Regions from separate parts of the Homo sapiens genome. Here region 1 is linked to region 2. The links come from fine-mapping of genetic effects on gene expression. A gene starts in region 2. The other region holds a variant in brackets. All regions are shown on one strand. Distances are between the middles of the regions.

Region 1 (12,505 bases), 160 kb before region 2:
ACTATGTAACTTACCAGCTACGTGAGCTTGTGCAAGATACTTTCCTTTTTTTTTTTTTTTTATTATACTTTAAGTTCTAGGGTACATGTTCACAACGTGAGACATTTCTTTAAAATATTTCTGGAGTATTTGGCTTTACTTAATTCAACCAAATTATCTCCCAATTCTTCAAAAGCCTGTTTTGACTGTTCTTCATTACCACACTGAATGTAACACTGGATCACATGAGTTGAATCATTTGCAAATGCAATTGTTTGTTTGTTTGAGACAGAGTCTTGCTCTGTCCCCTAGGCTGGAATGCAGTGGCACCATCTCAGCTCACTGCAACCTCTGCCTCCCAGGCTCAAGGAGTCTCATGCCTCAGCCTCCTGAGTAGCTGGGATTACAGGAATGTGCCAACATGTCCAGCTAATAAATGCAATAGTTTTAATTTTCCCTTGAATCAACTTCTGCAAGTCATTCATTAACTTTACTCTTTTTTCTTTGTCAGTCTTTTCTTCTTAAAGTCTTCCAAATCTGCTTTGCCCACACAACAGTGTCATAGTTACTTTTATCACTGAGTTGCCTGCTTTGCTTCAGTTCTTTCTTTTTCTTTTTGAAGTCATCCCATTTGGGTTTCTTGGCTGCTGATTCACCACTTTTGCCATCTGGCTGGAGTTTCCTCTTCTTGTTGAATTTATTTGCTGGCTGGAATTTGTTCCTTGGTGCTTTGTCCCATTGTTGCTTATTCTTCAACTGCTTCGCACCCTTTCCCCTGGTTTTGTGACACTTTTCTCAAAGTTCTTAGATGTGGCTTTAGATTCACCTTCCTTAGCAACTTTTCTTGGAAATGTCTTTGAAGAACCAGAATCACCGTGTTTATGAAATCAGTTTTATTTTTTTGTGATGCCTTTGTACTCTTTCCTGTGAATTGTTGTTTCCCCTTTGACTTCCACCATAGCAACTTGCACACATGGGGCCGACCACATATTGACTTTTTAACCATAAAACTTACTGCCTTAAGTTCTGCTTAGCCTAATATTACTTTATGTTCACATTTGAAGTATAAATCTTTGTTCCATTTTTATCTTTAGCTCTTTTAGCAGGGGGCTGTCATTTTTCTTTTGGATGTGCCAATTGTCAATCAAGGAAAATGACCAGGGCAAGTCCCATTCATTTTTGGAGGTTTATTTGCCAGAGTTAAGGACACACAACCGGGAAACAGGTCTATGCCTTTCTCTGAAGATGATTTTGAGGGCTTCAATATTTAAAGAGGAAAGGGCAGGATATTGAGAAATACCCAATGTTCATGTGAGAGGGGTAGGAGAAAATAGCCATTCCTGCCTTGGTCTGGCTCAGTGAATCTGCATTTTTACATAAGATTAATGTAGACAATAGGGCAGAGGAAACAATGTGTGCAGAGGGATGACTTTGAGTTCTGTCCTATGTTCCCCGCAGCTGTGAAGAAAAGCTATCAATTCACATTTGCATGATGCACTTTAACAGAAATGCTTTAGGGTGAAGATCTTGGGGACCACAAGGAATTTCCTTGTGAGGGAGGTATGTAGCTTTTCATCTTGTAGCCATCTTATTTAGGAACCAAAATGAGAGGCAGGCTTGCATAACCCAGTTCCCAGCTTGACTTTTCCTTTTGGCTTAGTGAGTTTGGGGTCCCAAGATTTATTTTCACATTTCCCCCATTTTTTCTTTAAAATCATTTGGAGAAAGCATTTTAGAAGGAAAATGTGTCTCTGGTCTCAGCTTGCTTTTTTCTTTTTCTTTTTTTTTTTGAGCTGGTCCTTCATTGCTAGGATGGTTTATTCCCAGAAATTCAGGTCCCACCTTGCTAGGAAGGCTCATTCTTAGCAGGTCGTGCCCCATGAAGATTAAAATAGGGGGAGGAAAGAAGGTAAGAGGAAATTAAAAATATAGGGATCTAGACCAGATATACAGCAAAAGGGAAAGCAAACCTGGAAGCTGGGTCAGGCTATGCTACTGCCTCCTCAATTAGAGCAACTCTTTGGGCAATCATTATTCTAGCCCTTTCAGTTGATGACTAATCTGGACATACCATAATAACATTGTAAGCAAAAACAGGACATGACACAAATTATTATTATTATTATTATTGGAAGCAATAGCTTCTGCCACCAATTTCTCCAGGTCACAATACAATTTCTCCAGGTATCCACCCCATATCTCTTGTAGTGTTTGGCCATTGGTCCTTGGGGTCGTTTCTTCGTTCCAAGCATAAAGGAGCATTTTGGCTGAGTTGGCCAAATGAAGGGATGAACCAGATAAACCCATTCCAAATTTGCATTATCCCATTTTGAAAATGGGCTGTTGTTTGGGGCATGGTTGCCACCTTCTCTTTTAGTTGGGGGAATGCTAAAGTGAGAGCTGGTGAGCTGGTCCTTTCCCTTGAAAATCTTTTCCCATGTCCTTGCTCTTGAGTGTTTTTAATGGGGAAATTATATATATTTAGTCTTTTGTTATGCCAGCACTAAGGATACGAAACCATTTCTGTGATGTAATAAATTTTGGTATTCTAGCTAGTCTTGACCTTGTAAGGGAAATACCCACCATGGCAGGCTGGAGCCACTGGAAAGAGGCATGAGTCTGCATATCACACAGGCATCCTTTTATAATCTGTCTGCATAATCCTGAGCCCATTGTAGAAACAGGTTTGTCTTATGGGCAACAATGGGTGACAGTGGCAAGAGGTTTTAGAGACATAGGGTAAATAGGAGCAAGGTTGTGAAATTCATTTTAACTACTAAAAGGACATTAAATCAGACAAGGCAAATGCCCTGTTCTGCACAAGATAGCAGTTGCCAGTATCTCTAGGACAATAATTGTAATAGCTATCATACAATACACATAGGTGTTCTTTTGTATACAGGCCTGGTCCTGTGTCTTGGGTTTCATAGGTGTTCTTTTGTATACAGGCCTGGTCCTGTGTCTTAGGTTTAAGCAGTCCACAACAGCTATGGTCTGCTCCTAGTCCTGGATTGAAGTTCAATGTTAATGAGCTGCAGGTGAAGATCCTTGGTAGGAGTTACAGCCTACTCAGGAGGTTGTGCCTTTTTAAGATGAGAGGTGTAAATCCATGAGTTTATACTGTCTAGTTTTTGCAGCACATGGATTTGTTAATAGTATTTGGTATGGCTCCTTCCATTGGGGTTGAAGGGAGTCCTTTATTAAATGTCTTTTCCAATAGACAAAGTCTTCAGGCTGCAGATCATAACCAGGAACCTTGTCTTCAGGGAGTGGACTATGAAAGGAATTCTTTACCAAATCTTGGCTTTTGTAAAGATGACAAATGAGTCCCTTATAATACTGCAATATATCTCTCTTGAGAAAAGTTGGGTTGGTTATTTTGGTTCCCATACACATGGGCCTTCCTGTTATAATTTCATAAGGGGATAGTTGATGTTTCCCAAGGTGGACCAGAGGGTAAGAAGCACCAGGGGAGTGCTTTAGGCCAACAGAGGTGAAGTCCATTTATGAACTTAGCCAATTGTGTTTTAATTATTCCATTGGTCCTTTCCGCCAGCTCTGAGGACTGGGGATGGTAGGCACAATGGAAATGTTGAAATATGGGCCAAATTTCACAAATATTTTGAATAACTTGACCAGGAAAATGAGTTCTTCTATCACGTAAAGTTCACAGTGGACTCCCCACAGTGGAATAATTTTTTCTAATAAAGTTTTCCAACTGCCATCGCTGTTGCTTGCCTGCAGGGAAAAGCTTCAACCCAATGGGAAAACATGCAGACCATTACTAAGACATGTAACCTTGAGAGGATGGCGGCTGGATAAAATCAAGCTGCCATACCTCAAAAGGTCCAGCTGGAAGGGGAAAATGACCCTGGGCCTCATGGAGGAGCTTCCGTGGATTATCCTTAGGACAAATAGCACACTGGGAATAAACCTTTTGTGCCACTGTGGAGGATCGTTTCCAGTAACATTGTTTACACTAGGATATACTTTTATCTGGATTCCATCGTGTCAGATTATTAACACATTCCTTAAGGGGCACCTGACATCCCATTGGAATAATGGTTTATTATTAAGTCCATACAATATTTTAGTTTCAGGAGACAGGTATTCCCCTGTCTGTTTCCAAGTGGATTTCTCTTTTGTTGGGGCTATACTCTAGGTTTCCTTCAACATGTTTTTAAGTGTTTCAGGCTTTATGATCATTTTTTTGGATTGGGTCTGGTGGCTTGAATGCTGCTTTTTCAGCTGTAGCAATAGCAAATTTGTTATCTCCACTTTTAGTGGTGTCCAATGTAGAGTGACCTGGGATTTTTACAACTGTCAAAAGTTTTGGTTGAGAATAGTTTCTAACAGCTCTGAGAGTTGGTTGTCCATTTTTTATGGGTTGCCCTGAGGAGGTTAAATATCCTCTCTCCTTTCACATTCCGAAGTCCTGAGCAACTCCAAATGCTTAGCAGGTGTCAGGGTATGTTTGCAGCCTTGTCTTTTGCTAATCGACAAGCTTGAGTCAGGGCAATCAATTTGGCCCCTTCAGCTGATTTGGCTTGAGGAAGAGGACCAGCTTCAACTACCTCTAGTAAAGAGACCACAGCATATCCTGCTCTAAAATTTCCATCCCCATCCTCTTAAATAAGACCCATCTGTATACCATTCTATCTCAGCATTATCCAGTGGCATCTCTTGTAAGTCTGTCCCAGAAGTGAGAAGTTGGTCAGTCATCAGAACATAGTCATGAGGGGTTTCGTCAGAAGGACCAGGCGAGAGAGTGTAAGTTAATTATTTGGAGCATATTATCTCAGTCAAAATGTATAAAATAATCTAAAATTGATTCATTTCGGTTCTGGTGGCATTGCTGGATTTTATCCCAATCCACAACCCTTTGGAATATTGAAGAAATGGTATTTAACAGAGCAGTTGCTCATTCCCACACATCTTTGTGTCTGTGTTCTCGACTTCTGGGGGCTGGTTATTGTAGCTCTATTGGGCCTTCAAGGGTTAAGTCTGCTACAGGGTCTGACCACTGTACTTTGTCCAGCTATTCCTTAGCTTTAGCTTCCGAGACCAACATGTGTGCCAGCTGTTAGAGGTCTGAATGGCCTGGGTCATAGGTTCTGATAATGAATTCAAATTCTTGGGCAAACTCAATTGGATCTTATGGGGGCCCAGAAATTCTTTATGCCCTGCAACTCAGCCTTTGACCAGCGTTGGTAGACAATCACCGGGGTTCCCCTATGTGTTACCGGTTGTTCCCAAAACAGGGTGATCATGAGAGATGGCCCTGCAGGGTCCCCCTTTTCCACATCTTCCAGATGAGAGGCTGCCACTGGCACTGTCAGGGAATTGTCAGGAGGTAGGGTCTTGGAAGTTAGACTCCCTACTGCCTTCTGTTGAGTGAGTGGTGTACAAGGAGAGGAAGATGTTAAATTAGAACATGCAGGAGAAGGAGGGAACAGATCTGGTC[C/T]GGGAAGTTCAGAGAGGTCAGGGGTAAAGTGGGGGTGTAAGTGGAGGTGGGGAGGTGCCACAGGGAAGTAAGGGATTCTGGGGATTTCTTTAAGAGAGATAGAACTTTAGAGAGTCCTTGGTTAGCATTTCTAAGTTGTTTGTTGGCTTATTGTAAGGACATGAGGTGATCTTCCCCCCATTTGCTACTCTCTAGGTACCATTGAAAGTAGCTCTCCCATTCTGGTTGTTTAGTTTTGTGCCTGCGTTTTGCATCCTAGTTCACAGGTACACTAATTTGGGCATCTCAGAAGATCCCCATCTAGGCCTCTGTAGGTTAGAATCTGCCTTGATTATAGTGGTCCACTTGATTAAATATTTGCATGACAATTCACCATAAGTGTTTTTGCATATACCTGGCCAGAGTTTCTAAGGGTGGAACTTTGTGTTCCACAGCTGTGGGGGTTTCAGCCAACTTAAAGGGCTCCTTCCACATAATTTAGAGTTTTCCTTCAGATTTGACCAAGTCGGAGGGTTTGTTGGATCCAAAGTGTGCTGCTTGGGGACCTAGCTTTTCAGGGCCGTTACTCGCTGAACTGGTATCGTGGCTACCTGGCACAGTGTGTCAGGGGCTCAAGGCATGGGAGATCAGCTCCTTATTTGCACCTGCTAGCTGAGATTACACCCTAAGTACGTTCTTCTGAGGGGAAATCCTACTCAGAGCCGTTGCACATCTTAGGGAGTGTTTCTTCCAGACACCCTCATGTAATTCTCAGTTGCCTAAGAAAGGCTGAGAAGGGCGAGCTCTTATTTCTTTGGAGAGGAAAATTCCATACTATAAGCTAGAGGGTTTAGAGTTGGCCAAATCCAATAAGAGAAGGACTGAAGCATACAAAAAAACACCTAACAAGACAGAAACAAGTAAATAAGACATCTAAGCAAAACGAACAGCAATCACACAAATTATACAATTTGAGTGCTCTAAATGTAAGGAGAAATTAAGACCAGCTGGTTGTTAACAGTACCTTTAGTTATTAAAGAGAATTTGCAAGACAGATTCCCAACTCACCTCCTTACCTAGTGATGAGACTCAAGCTGAAGACTGTTCTCCACTGATGAAGAAGCAGACAAGCTTGCCTTCCCTGATGGAAGCAAGCAAAAACTCCCAGAAAAAAAAAAAGAGGTGTTTTTTTTTTTTTTTTAAACATCAAATTAAACCTCAGAGCCCCAACTTCCTGCAGGGAGGAGGTCCCAGACCTCAACAAATTGTCTTATTGGTTTGGGCTATAAAGAGCCCAATCTGGTACCAATAGGAGAGCTGCTGCAGGCCAGGGCCACCTTCACTCAGGATCCCTCCGTGGTCAATCAAGGAAAATGACCCAGGAAAATCTCAATCATTTTTTGAGGTTTATTTGCCAAAGTTAAGGATACACACCTGGGAGATAGGTCTATTCCTTTCCCCATAGATGATTTTGAGGGTTTCAATATCTAAAGGGGAAAGGGAAGGATATTGAGAAATACATAATTTTCATGTGAGAAGAGGGTAGGGGAAAACAGTCATTCATGCCTTTGTCTGGCTCAGTGAATCTGCATTTTTACATATGTAGATAATGCAGACGATAGAGCAGAGGAAACAATCAGATATGCATTTGTCTCAGGTGGACAGAGGGATGACTGAGTTCTCTCCTATGTCCCCACACCTGTGGAGAAAAGCTATCCATTCACATTGCCATGATGCACTCTAACAGAAACACTTTAGGAAAAAGGTCTTGGGGCCCCCAAGGAATTTCCGTGTGGACAAAATGTGAAGGAGGTATGTAGCTTTTCGTATTTTAGCCATCTTATTTAGGAACCAAAATGAGATGCAGGTTGGCGTGACCCAGTTCCCAGCTTGACGTTTCTGTTTGGTTTAGTGAGTTTGGGGTCCCAAGATTTATTTTACTTTCACACAATCATAATCAGTAAATCATTGTACTTTATCTTTTTCATCTAATTGGGAACTCTGGGTGTTTTTTAATTTGGGGGGAATAAAAAGTATTTTCTAAATTCATTATGAATTGTGTGTCATGACAGTTATTGTTTCCATATTCTATTTTGTAGTGATAAGAAATTGATGCTGGCAAGCTACCAACTTTGTTTGCCCAGGTGTTTATACAACGCACCGCTAGACTAATCTTAAACATCAATTATCGCTGATTTGGGGCTTTATTGTTTTAAAATCTATAACTCATACTTTAGTACTTTGTAACATTTGCACTACACTGTATGATTTTTACCTTCTAGTTTGTCCTGTGTTTCCAATTAGATTCCAAGTGCTTACTCAGTTTAAGATCATCATAGGACCCTATGCTTTGCCTAAAATATACTTTCATTTGAGCTTTGACTTGACTGTATTTTTATTGCCTTCCCCGGTTGAGGCATTTTAGTAGGAAAAAAAAAAAGCTTATATCTTCTCCCTGTATTTTTAACCAGAGCATGATCGGTTCTAAACACATTCATTGCAATTTTTTTTTTAATTTTATTATTATTATACTTTAAGTTTTAGGGTACATGTGCACAACATGCAGGTTTGTTATGATTGGACTTACTCCTGAGTTCGTGCAGTTTGTATAAAAATATCTGGAAGACTAGAATGTTCACCTCACTGTTATCAGGCGAGATCTGCTGATTCATTCCACTGAATTTGGCTATTGTGAAACGGTAGAGAGAGGAAGCCTAATTATAGTACCACCCATCCTATGTGCTCAGCTTTCCTCCACCTAGAGTCTGGGAACACCCAGACCAGCAATCCTAGCCTCACTGAAGAAAATAATTAAAGAGCAGGCCAGTCAACACTGTTCTAATAAGACAAAGTTGTTTTTACAATGTTAACATTGCCTAATTAACAAACTTTTTATGTTGTTAATTTCATCATGTACGAGTTGCTATTTCCTGGATAAAAATTGAAACATACATGTTAACTTACATAATGTCGATAACAGTGGGAAATAATATAGAGCAAAAATATTTTCTCCTACGTGTACTATTTTCACCTTTGGTTGGCCTAAGAGAAAAATCCTTATATGGTGATATGAGAACATTCTTCATCAGATACAGAGGAATCTTTAACCAAGCATACAGCAGCCTCTTATTGAATAGACGTACATTTTAGGACTATCATGAGAGAGAACGCGTTTTATTCAATATATTTATAGTATATTTATAGCTCTTCTACAGTATATATGTGAATTACTAGGAGAAATGAGAAAAAAATAGGTGACTATCTAGTCCTCAAGGATTTTAATGCCTGGAAAGAAAGATTCAATGTATAATATTTTCCTGAAAATATACAAAAAAGTCAAATTATGAAAGTTTAAAAATAGCTTTACGTATTTCAATGGAAATTTCTATCCTATAGAGAGTTAGAAAATATTCAATCCCTAATGAAAGCTCACTTTAAATATAATCTTTGACAATATTTTCATAAACAAAGGCTCTTTAGTTTATCTTCCTTCACAACAGCATCAGGCTTAGTGCCCAATTAAATGTCTGCAGCAGTCCAAAGAAATATCATTGCCGAGGGTAGTATCTTTACCTCCAAGTGAGCAAGACAGGTCTCATCACTGCTATCAGTGATGAACTTGGGAATCAGTAATGGCTGCCAGTATTGAAAGATATATTATTTTTTTTCTTTTTTTTAAAACTTTATTATTATTATACTTTAAGTTTTAGGGTACCTGTGCACAACGTGCAGGTTTGTTACATATGTATACCTGTGCCATGTTGGTGTGCTGCACCCATTAACTCGTCATTTACATTAGGTATATCTCCTAATGCTATCTCTCCCAGCTCCCCCCACCCCACAACAGTCCCCGGTGTGTGATGTTCCCCTTCCTGTGTCCATGTGTTCTCATTGTTCAATTCCCACCTATGAGTGAGAACATGTGGTGTTTGGATTTTTGTCTTTGCGATAGTTTGCTGAGAATGATGGTTTCCAGTTTCATCCATGTCCCTACAAAGGACATGAACTCATCATTCTTTATGGCTGCATAGTATTCCATGGTGTATATGTGCCACATTTTCTTAATCCAGTCTATCATTGTTGGACATTTAGGTTGGTTCCAAGTATTTGCTCTTGTGAATAGTGCCACTATAAACATACGTGTGCATGTGTTTTTATAGCAGCATGATTTATAATCCTTTGGGTATATACCCGGTAATGGGATGGCTGGGTGAAATGGTATTTCTAGTTCTAGATCCCTGAGGAATTGCCACACTGACTTCCACAATGGTTGAACTAGTTTACAAAGCTGTAACTTTGCTGAGAACATTACAGATAAAAACACTGTGGAAGTTCAGGTGTGAGGGATTATCTGCAACTGAAAGGATCTGAGAATCAGAGGTCAGAGAAACATAGTCTATCACATATTTACTTGTCTTTTTTTGGTATTTTTCTTTTCTTTTCTTTTTTTGTTTTGTGTAGAGCAGTGGTTCTCAAATATTAGCATGCATGAGAATCACCTGGAGGGCATGTTAAAGCCCAGATTGCTGGCCCCACCCAAGAGATTCTGATTCAACAGGTCTGACGTGGAGCTGGAGAATTTGCATTTGTAGTAAGTTTCAGGTGTTGCTACTGCTGCTTGTCCAGGACTACTGATTATTCTCTGCAAGAGAATGCTAGAGTGGAATTACTGGAACAACAGCAAAGAACGCTTTAGGTTCTTGATACACTGTTGGGTTGCTATCAAGAAAGGGTATACACATTTACGAACTCGCCAGGGGAACATGAATGTTCTTCTCTGAATAACCTCTGTTATTGAGAGTCATAGGTTTTTTGTTGTTGTTGTTGCTTGTTGTTGATATACAATTTGGTTTTATTTTTGCATTTCCTTGATTAGGCTGAATATTTTTCTACATTTATTAACCATATGTATTTTCTCTTATGTAAACTTTCTCTGTGTTCTTTTCAGTTTTCAGAGTCAAAATTCCTACTCGTTTTCAATACTTGACTTTCAATGCATCTTCTTCCTGTGAAGTTCTCCTGACAACCCTACACGTGGTCCCTAGTTTGGGCCTCCTCTTCTAATAGTAAATGCGTACTCGCAATACTATGGAGAATTTCTATGCTGTATCCTAACTGTTGACATTCCTCTCTACCCCAGTGGACAACGAGCAACTCATGAACCATGATTGAGTCTTATTTTTATTCCTTTCCTCAGCCCCTAATCAACTGCTTGGCACAAGGTCTCTGTAAATTATTTAATGAATTAATGAATAAATCTATACAGATTACCGAAGAGTTGGTTTTAACTCAACACAGACTTCATCCAGATGGTATATCTACATTTTGTATGAAACAAAAAGGAGCACTAGGTCCTTAGGTGAGTCTAAGGACTTACCTAAGCTTGTTTAAAGTAATGTAAAGTAATGAAATGTAAGTAAAGTAATGAAAGCTTGTTTAAAGTAATGTAAGTGTTAATCGGACAGTATATAAAAATCCACACTAGGAAACTGCCAGACAATGAAATATTGCTGGCAACTGTCTACTAAAAAGAAAGCCAAGCCCTTTTCTTTCATTTAAAGAAAAGTAATTTCCTCTGCAAAATACTATAAAATTATATTTATTGATTCATCTGGGGCCTTTTCAAATTAACTGGACAATTATCCTAACACACCTCTCCAAAAAAAGAATACAAAAAACATGTTCTTCCTCTGACAATAAAACATGCATGTACTTACACATTGAAGGTACAAACAAAAGTTAAATTTCAAAAACAACTGTATTTTTTTCATCATGTCATACTGTTAAATCATACTCCTTGTATGCCTAATTTGGCTTTTTCACAGTTTTGCTATACCAAAAAATTACATAAAAAATTACCCAGCTTTATATTATCTCAGATACTGGAAAAAACATAAGTGAAACAAAGGAGGTTGCTGCTCAGTTGGAAATAAATAAACATGAGTACTCTTATATTTGGAAGGGACTTCTGGCTGGAGGTCTTGAGATCACGCAAATGCAGCAGGCTTTGCACCTTGGAGTCCTGAGATTGTCAGATACAAAGGAACTCCAGAGATGCTGAAACCCCTTGAACCTCCCCAGCTGTTCTTTTACCAAAGGTGAAAGCTCTTACCTGCAAGCTGGGTTTAGAGTCTCCGCTTCAGTTGCAGCTGCGTTTCCTCCACTTTTCCCTTTCAGTCATCATATTGCTGACCCTTGAAAACTTTTAAATTACTATTAAAGTGCTCAGTTGTGCTCCTTTTCGGCTATATGCTGCTCCAGTTTTGAAGGTGTAATTTGAAGTAAAATCTTGGAACCTAAGATCTTACCGTCTCCACGGACAGCAGAATACGGCTGTAATAGGTAGCTGTTAAGGTAGATGTTAAGGCCATTGTTACTATCGTCAACTGAGGCTAAGTCCTGGGTGGGCTTTTTGCTGTGCCAAATGCCCCCCTGTGCCACACAGTCAAACAGTAAACATGGCTCTACAGTGAGTCACACACTGGTTTTCAAAGAAGCATAAATCCTTCCACTAAAGAATCCATTGATAGGATAATTCTTTTATAAAATGGAGGTTCTAAAAACTGAAAGAACATTTTGCAACCCACCCCCAACTTTTGATTCCTACTGACACCCTTGACTCAATACAAAAGAAACTGGATTTCAAAAGATAAAAACGAATTTTTGCTTCTTTGGGTTGTGGGCTATAGTCATATCTTGCTCTGCATCTAGTTACAGCTTCAGGTCTCCACCTGAGGCAGCAAGTACTCCCCGATGGTGGCTGGGGAAGCCCCTCCAACTGCCTGACCTGGTCATATTTCCCACCTCACTTCTCTGAGGAACATCATAATTCAGGCTATGCTTAGATCAATTGGCAAAGAAATGAACTAAACATCGGCAATGATATAAAATCAATGAATCAGGTTTCACCAAAAAATGAATAGGGTAAGAAATTATGCTTTTTATGAATGTCCATCGTATAATCGTAAACAGTGGTGTTTCTACTGTATTTTAAAAGACCTGTATGTCTCAAGGCCTCTCTAAAAAAAAAAAATAGGGCCACCAAGCACAAATGTAGGGACAATTAATACCATTGTTTTTTAA
Region 2 (12,505 bases):
TGAAATGTGTCAAAATGGTGATGATTTGCATAACTCACTGAATGACTATTTTACCCTACACATAGTAAATTAAAAGATCTATTCAAAGTGTAAGACAATAAATGGATTTTAATATAACAGAGTACAAAAAGTTCATTGATATGGTTTCAGATTCCATATTACTACTAATCTTTCAAAAACTAACATTTTGGTAATTTGTTTTTTTTTTAATTGGCCACAAAAATATCTGAAAAGCTGTTGAAATACCCCTTCTTTTTCCAACTACTTATCTGCGCAAGGCTGGATTTTCTTATGTCAATCGAAACATGTAGGGCCTGGCGCGGTGACTCACACCTGTAATCCCCGCACTTTGGGAGGCTGAGGTGGGTGGATTACAAGGTCAGGAGTTCAAGATCAGCCTGGCCAACATGGTGAAACCCCGTCTCTACTAAAAAATACAAAAATTAGCTGGGCGTGGTGGCAGGCGTCTGTAATCCCAGCTACTTGGGAGGCTGAGGCAGGAGAATTGCTTGAACCCGGGCGGCAGAGGTTGCAGTGATCCGAGATCGAGCCACTGCACTCCAGCCTGGGTGACAGAGTGAGACTCTGTCTCCAAAAAAAAAAAAAAAAAAAAGAAAAAAAAAGAAACACTGTATTACAGCCAACGGAGAACAGGAGCAGATATGAGGCTCTGCTAGCCACTAACCACTAATTCTACCATGTTTTGAATAAACATTCAGGAAAGTAGGTGTCTTGATTTGTTCCCCTGTCATTTAATTACTACAAATAAACATGACTTCCTCCTTTGTCTACAAATGCTCTTCTTTTGAAAACCAAAGATCTTGACCAGGATACTTTTACTAGGCAACCTGTGCTTTGCTAACAGCAATATGATCTATCACTTATATTGTAAATGTTTTTAGTTTACAAATACTACGCATACATTCCACTCAAATACTCTGAAGTCAAGATGGGATTTGCCCAAGGTTGTGTAGTAAACAGCAGCAGAGTCACTAAAACTCTGTTTTAATGACTTAAGGTCATTTGCTGCCCCATGACACCGCTTGATCTGGAAAGTGTCTTCGCCTAGGCAGTTTGCCAGAAGAGGGAGAGAAGAAATTAAAGAGACCAGATAACTTTGCATTTGGTAAAGAACAAATCTGTCTCTCTTAGGCAGGAGTGAAGAGGATGAGATTCTTGTGTGTGGTAGGTTATGGGTCTGAACTACAATTCAGATTCTTTTTAATTTTTTTTTTATTTTTTATTTTTAGATACAGTCTCTCTCTGTTACACAGGCTGGAGTGCAGTGGCACGATCTGGATTCACTGCATCCTCGACCTCCCAAGCTCAAGCGATCCTCTCACCTCAGCATCTGAGTAGCTGGGACAACAGGCGCCACACCACCACACCCGGTAAATTTTTGCAATTTTTGTAGAGATGGGGTTTCACCGTGCTGCCCATGTTGGTCTCGAACTCCTGGACCTAAGCGTTCCGCCTGGCTCGGTCTCCTGAAGTGTTAGGATTACAGGCATCAGTAATTGCACCCGGCCAAACAATTCAGGTTCTTTTTTGTTTTGAGACCGACTCTCAAACTGATCGCCCAGGCTGGAGTGCAGTGGCACGGTCTCAGCTCACTCCAACCTCTGCCTCCCAGGTTGAAGGGATTCTCGTGCCTCAGACTCTTGAGTAGCTGGAGTAAGCCTAATTAATTAATTTTTTTTTTTTTTTGTATTTTTAGTAGAGATGGGGTTCCACCATGTTGGCCAGGCTGGTCTCGAATTCCTGGCCTCAGGTGATCCCGCCTGCCTCCGCTTCCCAGAGTGCTGGGATTACAGGCGTGAGCCACCGAACCTCGCACATTTGTTACATTTGTAGACAAGCGGGACAAAATGAAGGGAGGGAAGCTGTGTATAGAATGAAAAAGGCGATTCTTCAGGAGTTAAGAGTAGTTTATAGAATCTGTCACCAGTGTCTTTTCCTTGTATTCTCTTTTCCCGTTTCACACATCTCTTTCCTAAAGAGTTGGCAACTTTAACAATATTTACATTTGCATGGCCCCTCTCAATTTTCAAAGTATTTTCGCAATCATTGTTCACTAAACCTCAGACAGAGCCTTCCCTCTGTGAGGAAAGCTCACAGAGTAGGTGTTATGGGCTCCTGGTGCCTTGGCAAGCAGAAGTATTTCAGGAGCTAGGCGAGCTGACTCTAGCCTAGTCTGGAGGATGAGCTGGTAGGATGGGGAGAGCCTACCCCAACTCAGCTGCCCACAGCATCAGCACCACCCTCCACTTGGAAAAGAGGAAGCACCAGAACCCAACGTTCCCCCAGACAAAAAGCCCCAGAGTTTCTGATTCAGTTCGTTAAGGATGGGGCCTGGGAATGTGCATTTCTATCACGTTCCCAACAGATGCTACCGGTCTGGGAACTACACTTTGAGAACCACTGCTTTAATTCATACCATATGTTTGCAGAATTAGTCCAAAAACTTGTATGTTAGGTGACACCTGATAAAAGAAAAAGTTCATCTGAATTAAATTTAAAGAAGTTTAATTGAGCAATGAACAATTTGCGAATGGGGCAGCACCCAGAGTCACAGCAGATTCACAGAGACTCCAGCACAACCACGTGGTGGAAGAAGATTTATAGACAAAAAAAGGGAAATGACCTACAGAAACCGGAAGTGACGCACAGAACAGCTGGATTGATTGCAGGTTGGCATTTGCCTTTTTTTTTTTTTTTTTTTTTTTTGAGACGGAGTCTCGCTCTGTCGCCCAGGCTGGAGTGCAGTGGCGGGATCTCGGCTCACTGCAAGCTCCGCCTCCCGGGTTCACGCCATTCTCCTGCTTCAGCCTCCCAAGTAGCTGGGACTACAGGCGCCCGCCACTACGCCCGGCTAATTTTTTGTATTTTTAGTAGAGACGGGGTTTCACCGTTTTAGCCGGGATGGTCTCGATCTCCTGACCTCGTGATCCGCCCGCCTCGGCCTCCCAAAGTGCTGGGACTACAGGCGTGAGCCACCGCGCCCGGCCGGCATTTGCCTTTTTTGAACACAGTCTGAACACTCATCAGTGTGTGAGTAGTTGAAGTATGGCTGCTGGGATTGGCCAAGACTCAGCTATTGTTACAGATGCATACTCCTAAGTTAGGTTTTCAATCTTGTTTATTAAGCTAGGTTACAGTTCATCCCCAAGGACTCAAATATAGAAGAATGGAGTCCTTCTCAGGCTATATTTATTTTGCTTTAACACACCTATGTCCTTGAAGGAACCCATGAAGAGCCCTTTCATGAAGAGTCTGTTTTGCTGATGAGGAAGATGAATAGAAATAAGCAACTTGTCCAAGGCCATGCTGAGAGAAATTTGGTAGAGTCCGTCTGAAGTAGACCCATGATCTTCTGATTCCTTACCAAGGGTAGTTCCTAAGGCTGTTAGTCTTTCACAACTTTCTTTAATAGCAGACAGGGGTGATTAGCAGTTGCTATTTGTGAAATGTCTAAGAGTTGATGCCTGGGATGGCCCTTGAGTTCACAGCTGTGAAAGTAAACCCATTACAACTATTTTTGTTTGTTTGTTTGTTTGTTTGAGATGGAGTCTCACTTTGTTGCCTGGGCTATAGTGCAGTGGCCTGATCTCGGCTCACTGCAACCTCCGTCTCCTGAGTTCAAGCAATTCTCCCCCCTCAGCCTCCCAAGTAGCTGGGACTATAGGCGCACATCACTACACCCGGCTAATTTTTTTTACTTTTAGTAGAGATGGGGTTTCACCATGTTGGCCAGGCTGGTCTTGATCTCCTGACCTCGTGACCTGTCCGCCTTGGCCTCCCAAAGTGCTGGGATTACAGGCGTGAGCCATCGCACCTGGCCCCCCATCACAACTATTTTATGGTCTGGGTCCCAGATTTTATTCACCTCTCTACCCCGGCAGCAACCTACACAGTGTTTCCTGCCTTCTAGGTGTATTAAATAAATACATGTTGGCTGAGCACAGTGGCTCACACCTGTAATCCCAGCACTTTGGGAGACTGAGGCAGGAGGATTGCTTGAGCCGAGTTTGAGACTAACCTGAGCAACATAGTGAGACCCCATCTCTAGAAAATAAGTTGAACATGAGCATGACCTAATAGCAATGAAAAAAGAATGCTCCCTATTTTTATCCATGACACATTATAGGAGATAAAAATGTCCTTCAGCGTACCTGAGATTATCAAGGATAGAAGTACATAAAACATTAAATTTCAGCTCTTTAGAATTATATGCCTAAATGCTGTTGGGTTTCCAAAGATAGTGGATTTCAACCCAATTTAATTTTAAAAAATGATGTTCACGCTAAACAAATAACTGTGCTGGGGTTGTAAGTAAGATCTAGTTTCTCACTTACAGGAATTTAGTGTCAAGTGGGAAGATGCAGAATGTTCGTAATTAACTACAGTATTACATGAAATAGAATGTGTTACCTGCCAAAATAGAGATCTACAGTGCAAAGAGACAAAAAGGTGAGAACTGGCTTTCACTTAGGAGAGTGAATGAAGCATTTGTGGAGGAAATGGTATCTGAACCGAGCCCCTAAAGGGTAGGTGGATCTTGCCTGTTAAAGAGAAAGAATCTTCTGGGCAGAGAAAATCACATGGGAAAAGAGATAGGCACAAAGATCTCTTGGGAGCAGCTACTTTTCCATATGGACTGGGCAGGGCACGCGAGTGAAGTATGAAGTTCAACTGGAATGTCATTGGGAACAGCCAAGGCCGAGAACTATGGAATAGTTTTGAGCCAGGGGAGATATGATCAGGGCTGTGCTGCAGAGAAAGTGGCTGCAGCAGGGAGCAGTGTGGAGGGCAGGGGGAAGAGATAAGAAGAGAGAGGTGAAGAGTTGGAAACCAGTAAGAAGGACACTTCAGAATGTGACATGAGTGAGAGAGTGGGTTTGGGCTCCTCTGTGGTAAACCTCATTTTGAAACTGGTTTCACTCGCTACCCCTGCAATTTAGGCTTTAAAATAAGACTGTCTTTGGACTTTAGTTTTCTCACCTGTGAAAGGAGAGGGTCGATGCTGGCTCAAGTCGGCCATCTCTGATGGTCTGTGATTCTAAGCATCTTATTTGTCATCTGCTACAAATCCAATTCTGGATGGCTGAGGTCACTTCTCATCCTTAAAATTTGCTAACATGAATTTGGTGTTGTTTGGTGCTGTTTGCAATTGGAAATCCCACTGATATGGCCATGATTTGGGGCAGGATTGGGAAGATGAAATCATTGAGTTGGAGTTTATTCCAATTTGCCTTATTTAAAACTTATTTCAGTTATACCAACTTTTCAAGCATGGCTGAAAAGAGAAAATATATCTTGCTGGGTTTACAAACTCGGGGGACAGGAAGTAGGTTTCCAACTCTGAACATGTGGTAGGTTACTTAGGTTACTTCTTGTAAACACAAGGATTTTACATCAGGGGCAGAGGCCAGATTTCATGACTATAACTGGAAATCTTAGGAAACAGATGAATCATATAACCCATCACTTCAACTGGAAAGCAAATGTATCCTACTATTAGAGTTTATCTCGAAATGCTTTGGGAAATCTCAGGGGGCTGGAGGAACCCTCAGCTCAAGCCATTTGTGGGATGTGTTGGTCCGGCATAGACTCCAGCCAAAAGACCAAATATTGCCTTTTGTTGTTTCCTGGAGGGAAGGATATGGACAACAATGATCTGGCCGTGGGGAAGATTCAAGGGAATAAAAATGAATCATCACCAGCCACCAGGAAGCACCAGGAGCTCTCTAAATGGAATGGAGGCCTCCCATACCTTGGGTGGGTGAGGTAAAACAATAGCTGATGAGGGAGACAGAGGCGGAGATAGGAACACTCAGCTTTACTGAGACTGGCAACCATGGTGAAGGAACTAACCAAAAGAAATATGAGCTTGCTGCTGCCCCGAATTTCAAAAGAAATCACTTCGGGGCTGGTTTCCTGTAGTGTCCCTTAGGGAGGTCATTTTTTTTTTTTCTGAGCCACCCCTGGTGATTTCCTCATCAGCTGCCCCAGCTCTAGTATCCACCATGAGCAATGTCATCTGCATAATAATGTGGAGAATGTAACCAACTATTCACTCCATGTCCAAAAGGGCTCTGTGAACTATGAGGCTACAAAGAGCCTCCAACCAGAAGACTGGAGTGCTAATTGCTGCCCTAGGAAGGAGGGTGGAGGGACATCTGCCCTCCAGTTCAGGTCCTCAGCTGCGGCTTTGGGGGAATTTTAGACACACCCTGCTAGTTGCTGGACCCTGGGACATAGGATTTGAGCTGGATTCTTTCTTGTCTTCTTGTGCTTTTTAAATAATGTAATTAATTAATTACCTTTTTAAAGCATCCTTATATCTCTCCATTTATTTTTGTCTTCTTTAGTGTTTCTAAATAAAGTCTTTTTTTAACCTTTAAAAATTAAGGATATTTTCAAACATACAAAAATTAGAGGATAGTATGATGAACCCACACCACCTAACTTCGATATCTGACCAAGTTTGTTTCACTTATGTCCCTTCCAGTTTTTTTCTAGATATGTAAAAACACATTCGAAGTATCATGTCATCTGTAAAGTCTTCAAAATATATTGCTAGCAGATAAGGAGTTTTAACAAATAACAGTACTACTATTATATGTAACAAAACTAGTAATTTTTTCACCTCACGTAATGCCCAGTGATCCACTTTCTCTTGTTGTCTAAAATGTCTTTTTTGAAGTTGGCTTGAGTTGGAAACCAAGTAAGATCTATACAAAATACACGTTAGTTCCTCTCTTCTTTTCATGCTATTCATTCGTAGAAGAAATCAGATAATAGGTTCTGTAGAATTTCGAGCTTTGGCTTATTGCATTCTTGTGGTGTTTTCCCAAGGAGCCCTTGTGTCCAGATGGTGGTCTTTCAATAACATTTCCCAATTTTTTATGATTACAGGGTTTTTGCTTATTTGATTTTATATTTGTATCTTGTTGTTCCTATGCTGAAAAGCTCAGTCTCTATATTAACATAATTACTTGTCAACTTTAGCTTACAACACATATATAGCTTAAAAATAATAGGCAATAAGACTACTGAACCTAGGTTAAGAGTTCTCTGCAATAATTCCATGGAGATAATATCTTCTTTTACATCCCTAAAGATATTTACTATAGTTCCTTTCTGCATTGATGTTTTCCTTTATTTTCTTTATCATTTCTGTTTCACTTTTCAGGCATTGATAAACCTTGGCTGTTGCTTCAAATATAAATGATTCTAGAACATCAGAATAACTAGTAACAGTAAGATTACTCAAATAAGCAAATAAAATCAAAGAAGGTAAGTAAAAATTTTATAATCTAACGTTTGAATTGGACATATCACTATAAACTCATTTTATCTTTTAAAATAAATTTTAAAATGCATATTTCATTGCTCTGTCCCTTGAAAAAGTCTAAAAGGAATGACAACTCAGCAGTAATTAACACAATAAGCATCCAGATTGTGGTTTTTAAATCCTATTGTGTCCAGAATTGGTGGGTTCTTGGTCTCACTGACTTCAAGAATGAAGCCGCAGACGCTCGCGGTGAGTGTTACAGCTCTTAAGGTGGCGCCTCTGGAGTTTGTTCCTTCTGATGTTCGGATGTGTTCAGAGTTTCTTACTTCTGGTGGGTTCGTGGTCTCGCTGGCTCAGGAGTGAAGCTGCAGACCTTCGAGGTGACTGTTACAGCTCTTAAGACAGCGCGTCTGGAGTTGTTCGCTCCTCCCGGTGGGCTCATGGTCTCGCTGGCTTCAGGAATGAAGCTGCAGACCTTTGTGGTGAGTGTTACAGCTTGTAAAAGCAGCGTGGACCCAAAGAGTGAGCGGTAGCAAGATTTATTGCAAAGAGCGAAAGAACAAAGCTTCCACATTGTGGAGAAGGACCTGAGCGGGTTGCCACTGCTGCCTCCGGCAGCCTGCTTTTATTCTCTTATCTGGCCCCACCCACATCCTGCTGATTGGTAGAGCCGAGTGGTCTGTTTTGACAGGGCGCTGATTGGTGCGTTTACAATCCCTGAGCTAGACACAAAGGTTCTCCACGTCCCCTCTCGATTAGCTACATAGAGTGTGGACACAAAGGTTCTCCAAGGCCCCACCAGAGTAGCTAGATACAGAGTGTCCATTGGTGCATTCACAAACCCTGAGCTAGACACAGGGTGCTGATTGGTGTGTTTACAAACCTTGAGCTAGATACAGAGTGCCTATTGGTGCATTTACAATCCCTGAGCCAGACATAAAGGTTCTCCACGTCCCCACCAGACTCAGGAGCCCAGCTGGCTTCACCCAGTGGATCCCGCACCAGGGCTGCAGGTGGAGCTGCCTGCCAGTCCCGGTGCCCTGCGCCTGCACTCCTCAGCCCTTGGGTGGTCGATGGGACTGGGCGCCCTGGAGCAGGGGGTGGCGCTTGTCAGGGAGGCTCGGCCGCACAGGAGCCCATGGAGGGGGTGGGAGGCTCAGGCATGGCGGGCTGCAGGTCCCGGAGCCCTGTCCTGCGGGAAGACAGCTAAGGCCCAGTGAGAAATCGAGCGCAGCGCCGGTGGGCTGGCACTGCTGGGGGACCCAGTACACCCTCTGCAGCTGCTGGCCTGGGTGCTAAGCCCCTCATTGCTCGGGGCCGGCAGGACCGGCCAGCTGCTCGGAGTGCGGGGCCCGCCAAGCCCACGCCCACCTGGAACTCCAGCTGGCCCGCAAGCGCCGCGCACAGCCCCGGTTCCCGCTCCGTGCCTCTCCCTCCACACCTCCCTACAAGGTGAGGGAGCTGGCTCCGGCCTTGGCTAGCCCAGAAAGGGGCTCCCATAGTGCAGCGGTGGGCTGAAGGGCTCCTCAAGTGCCGCCAAAGTGGAAGCCCAGGCAGAGGAGGCGCCGAGAAGGAGCGAGGCCTGTGAGGACTGCTAGCACGCTGTCACCTCTCACTATTCCCAACTAACAGGAACTAGAGCTCTTTAGAAAAATGCTTGATTCCAAGTCTAGGGCAAAAATTAAAAGGTGAGTCTGGGACATTGTTTTGTGTCAAAGAAGAAACAAGAAAGCCTTTCAAAACAAATGGGGCTGTAGTTATCCAATGGGTTCTTCCTGCCTGCTGCAGAGACAAAACCCATTCACTGAGACCACAGTATTGCAGTAAAGAAGGAGTTTAATTAATACGAGGCCGGCCACGTAGAAGAACTGGAATTATTCAAGTCAGTCTCCTGAAGGCTTGGAGGTTAGAGTTTTTCAAGGAGAGTTTGGTGGGCAGGAGGCTAGGGAATGGGAAATGTTGATTAGTTGGGGATGCAGTCATAGGAGCCTGGAAAAATGGTCCTTATGTGCTGAGTCAGCCTCTGGATGGGGGCCACAGGACCATTTCAGTCACGAGTCATGGTCTGGGTAGAGTCAGTTGGTTGCCATAAATGTAAAAGTCTAAAAACATCTCAAAAGGCCAGTCTTAGGTTCTACGATAGTGATGTTATCTACAGGAATAATTGGAGAAGTTACACATATTGTGACCTCTGGAACAATGGCTGGTTGTTGTTTAACTATGCCTGTATCTTAACCAGAATTCAGGCCCTTCTCATAATCCTAATCTTGTGGTCTTCCGTTATTTTTACAAAGGTGGTTTAATTTTGGGAGTGGCTATTATCATCCTTGCTTTAAGGTTAAACTGTAAACTAAAATCCTCCCAAAGTTAGCTTGACCTATGCCCAGCAATGACAGCTTGGAGGTTAGAAGCAAGATGGAGTCAGCTATGCCAGCTTTCTCTTACTGTCATAACTTTGTAAAGGCAGTTTTAGGGTCATATCAGAAAGACACAAGAACTGCCATTAAGGGGCTCCCACTGGCCAAAAATGGGATAATTTGTGTGTGAGAAAGAATTAAAATACATCAGATATCTAAAAATTCATGAGTATTTAATGACTTAAAATTCCTCCTTGGTCATCTTTGGAGGCTGCTAAAATTACTCAAAAATGTATTGAAAAGGGAAATATAAAGGATTTATTCTGCCTTTCTTGTATGTACTATATTTAAGGGTAACCACATTGTTGATGAGGGGAAGCTCTTTATAGGATAATTCCAATGAATAAATGCAGAAGAAATGATAGAATTAGAAAATCATCATTTTGCAATCCCTATAAAATGAATCCAGGCAACAATTATGAGTCGCTTTTAACCCGTTTGCTAATACAGGTTAAAAGTTGACAAAGAACTTCATAATGGAAATATTAGGCTTCTCTCATCAAAACCCAATCACCAATCTTGGTATCATTAAAAGTACAACTGGACCATATAATGATGTTGTGCAGTAGAAAAAACATACCACCACTTAGAAGTATTTTTGCCTAAAAATCTTATCAAGTCAGTAGGTTTAACTACCAGTTTAAAGAAAACAAAAGAAATAGAACAATTTAAACAAGACTATGAAGATGCAATAAACCAAATCCTGAATGAGATATTCTACAAACCAAACAATCCAGTTTCTCCAAAAAATAATTGCATATAAAAAGAGGGATAAATTTTTAGAGAATAAAAGATACTTAAGAGATGGAATAACTGATGTCTAGACCTTGTGTGGATCCTGATTTAAACAAACCTACTATAAAATACATCTTTGAGATAGAGAAATTTGCACATAGACTTAGTATTCAATTATATAAAGAAGTTATTATAAGTTGTATTACTGTCATAATGGCACGATTGCCAGTTTTTAAAAAGTTCGTATTGGTAAAAGATGAATACATATTGATGTATTTACTGGTGAGTTGATATGATGTCCAGGATTTGCTTTAAAATACTCCAGGAAAAAAAAATAGGAAGAGGAGAGGTAAAAAAGAAAGAATAGCTGTTTTTTTAAGTGGCAGACTGCTGATTAATTGTTGAAATGGGGTAACAGGTGCATGTGAGTTCCTTGTACTATTCTTTCTAAGTTTGAAAATGTCTATGTTTTTCAAAATAAATCATAAAGGTTTTCAAAAATAGAGAAAATAGTAAATTCCTTGTGAATAATTAAAAATCTAAATTATTTCTAAATAATAATAATTTAAAAACAATGGAAAAAATAAATCTTAGTAATCATAGGGTATGGCAAAAAAGGAAACTGAATATTCAAAACAAATGAAAAGAGAAAAATTATCTCATGAAGTAACCATCTTTTCTATAGGATGATTTATCTTTATATTGTCACTACCAATTATCTAGAACCCAGGAACCCTCTCTTCCAGGTGACTCTGGTAGTACACAGACAAATTCCAATTTTTTTGGACTTTTTAAAGATGTTCCTTCTGTTTATATTTGTAATGTCATCACCACTTAATCCATGCCATTATGAAATTGCCCCATGATTAACATGATTTGTGGATTTCAGTTTGTTTAATATGGCTACATATTAGGTTTCTTTTTCTTGATGTCACTAAAGGAGGCACCCAAATTGTGTTTGCATCACAGTGTTGGTTGGGGTACAAATCATTCCTTCCAAGCTGGGCTGTTTCCTCTCCATTGGTGGATCCTGGTTTTGTCACTCCATCCCTGACAGCAAATTAGGGACCCATTTTTCGCTCAAGCCTATTACTTATTAGAGTGACCCCTCATCTACTTACTACAGTGACTATCAGCAGAAATGAATTTTTTAGTTTCTGAAAATGAGCCCATTTCACAACATAGCTAACAACTAGCCTGATTCAAGAATTCCAACTCTCCCAGTACAGACTTCTCCTTCTCTTCAGAGGCAAACGCTGGGGGTTGGGGCAGGGCGGGAACAACTGAGCCTTGTGCTCTGCCCTCAAGGTCAACAGATTGAATGTGGCCTTGTGTGTGTTGTGAATGTACAGTACATGACATCATGCATATTCAGTGGGCTTTTCCAACCGCCAGTCTCACTAATGATTAAAATTTCTTTTTAGAAAGGCACCCTTCTTTGGCTTTTGAGATTATTTGACTATCTTGGTACTCTTACCTCCTTTTCTGTCTTAGCCATGATTCTTCTTCATCCTGACTTGCCCCTTTTTCTCTCTCCTCCCCTTTCTCTTCCTCTCCTGCTCTCTCCTCTGCTTGCCTTTTCTCTCTTTTCCTTTCCCCTCCCCATGCCTGTCCTCCTCTACCTTTTCCTTCCTCTCCTCAATCTTCCTTCCTCTCTTTTTTCCTTTCCATTTTCCATACATTAAACCAATAGAGATACCTGACCTCAACTATCAATTTTAAGTGGATAAATTTAAACCTATACCACTTTACTCCAGTGCCAATTCTATACCTTCCATGGACTGTGAAATATTTATACTCATATATCCCATTATTAAATCCAAAGTATTAGGTTGGTGCAAAAGCAATTGCGGTTTCTGCCATTGAAAGAAATGGCAATTTCTTTAATTAATTTGCATCAACCTAATAAAACTTATCTCCCGAAAAGATTCCCCTCCCTTTTCTTTGACTTTGTAGATGACTTCCGTTCTCCAGACTTGGAGCCGTGTAGTCATCTCTTATTCTTTCCTTAACCGCTCTTTTGAGCTAGGCAATGAATTCTATCCCTTCAACCTTT

The links. PIP is the estimated chance that this variant, and not a neighbour inherited with it, causes the effect. A credible set is the group of variants that fine-mapping cannot tell apart.
Region 1: its variant is the best candidate, but not a certain one, in a credible set for the expression of LINC02319 in whole blood (INTERVAL, PIP 0.60).

Annotation. Positions count from the first base shown.
Region 1 is chr14:52,275,225-52,287,729 of GRCh38, reverse strand. It overlaps PTGDR (prostaglandin D2 receptor), which reads right to left. Exons shown (of 2, transcript NM_000953.3): 2 at 11,006-12,505. It also overlaps the pseudogene LOC100131689. Among named protein-coding and RNA genes, the nearest start is that of PTGDR, 14 kb to the right of the region's middle. The variant C/T (reference allele first, on the strand shown) is at 5,444.
Region 2 is chr14:52,118,467-52,130,971 of GRCh38, reverse strand. LINC02319 (long intergenic non-protein coding RNA 2319) reads left to right here and starts at 5,475. Exons shown (of 3, transcript NR_187197.1): 1 at 5,475-5,778; 2 at 7,196-7,299.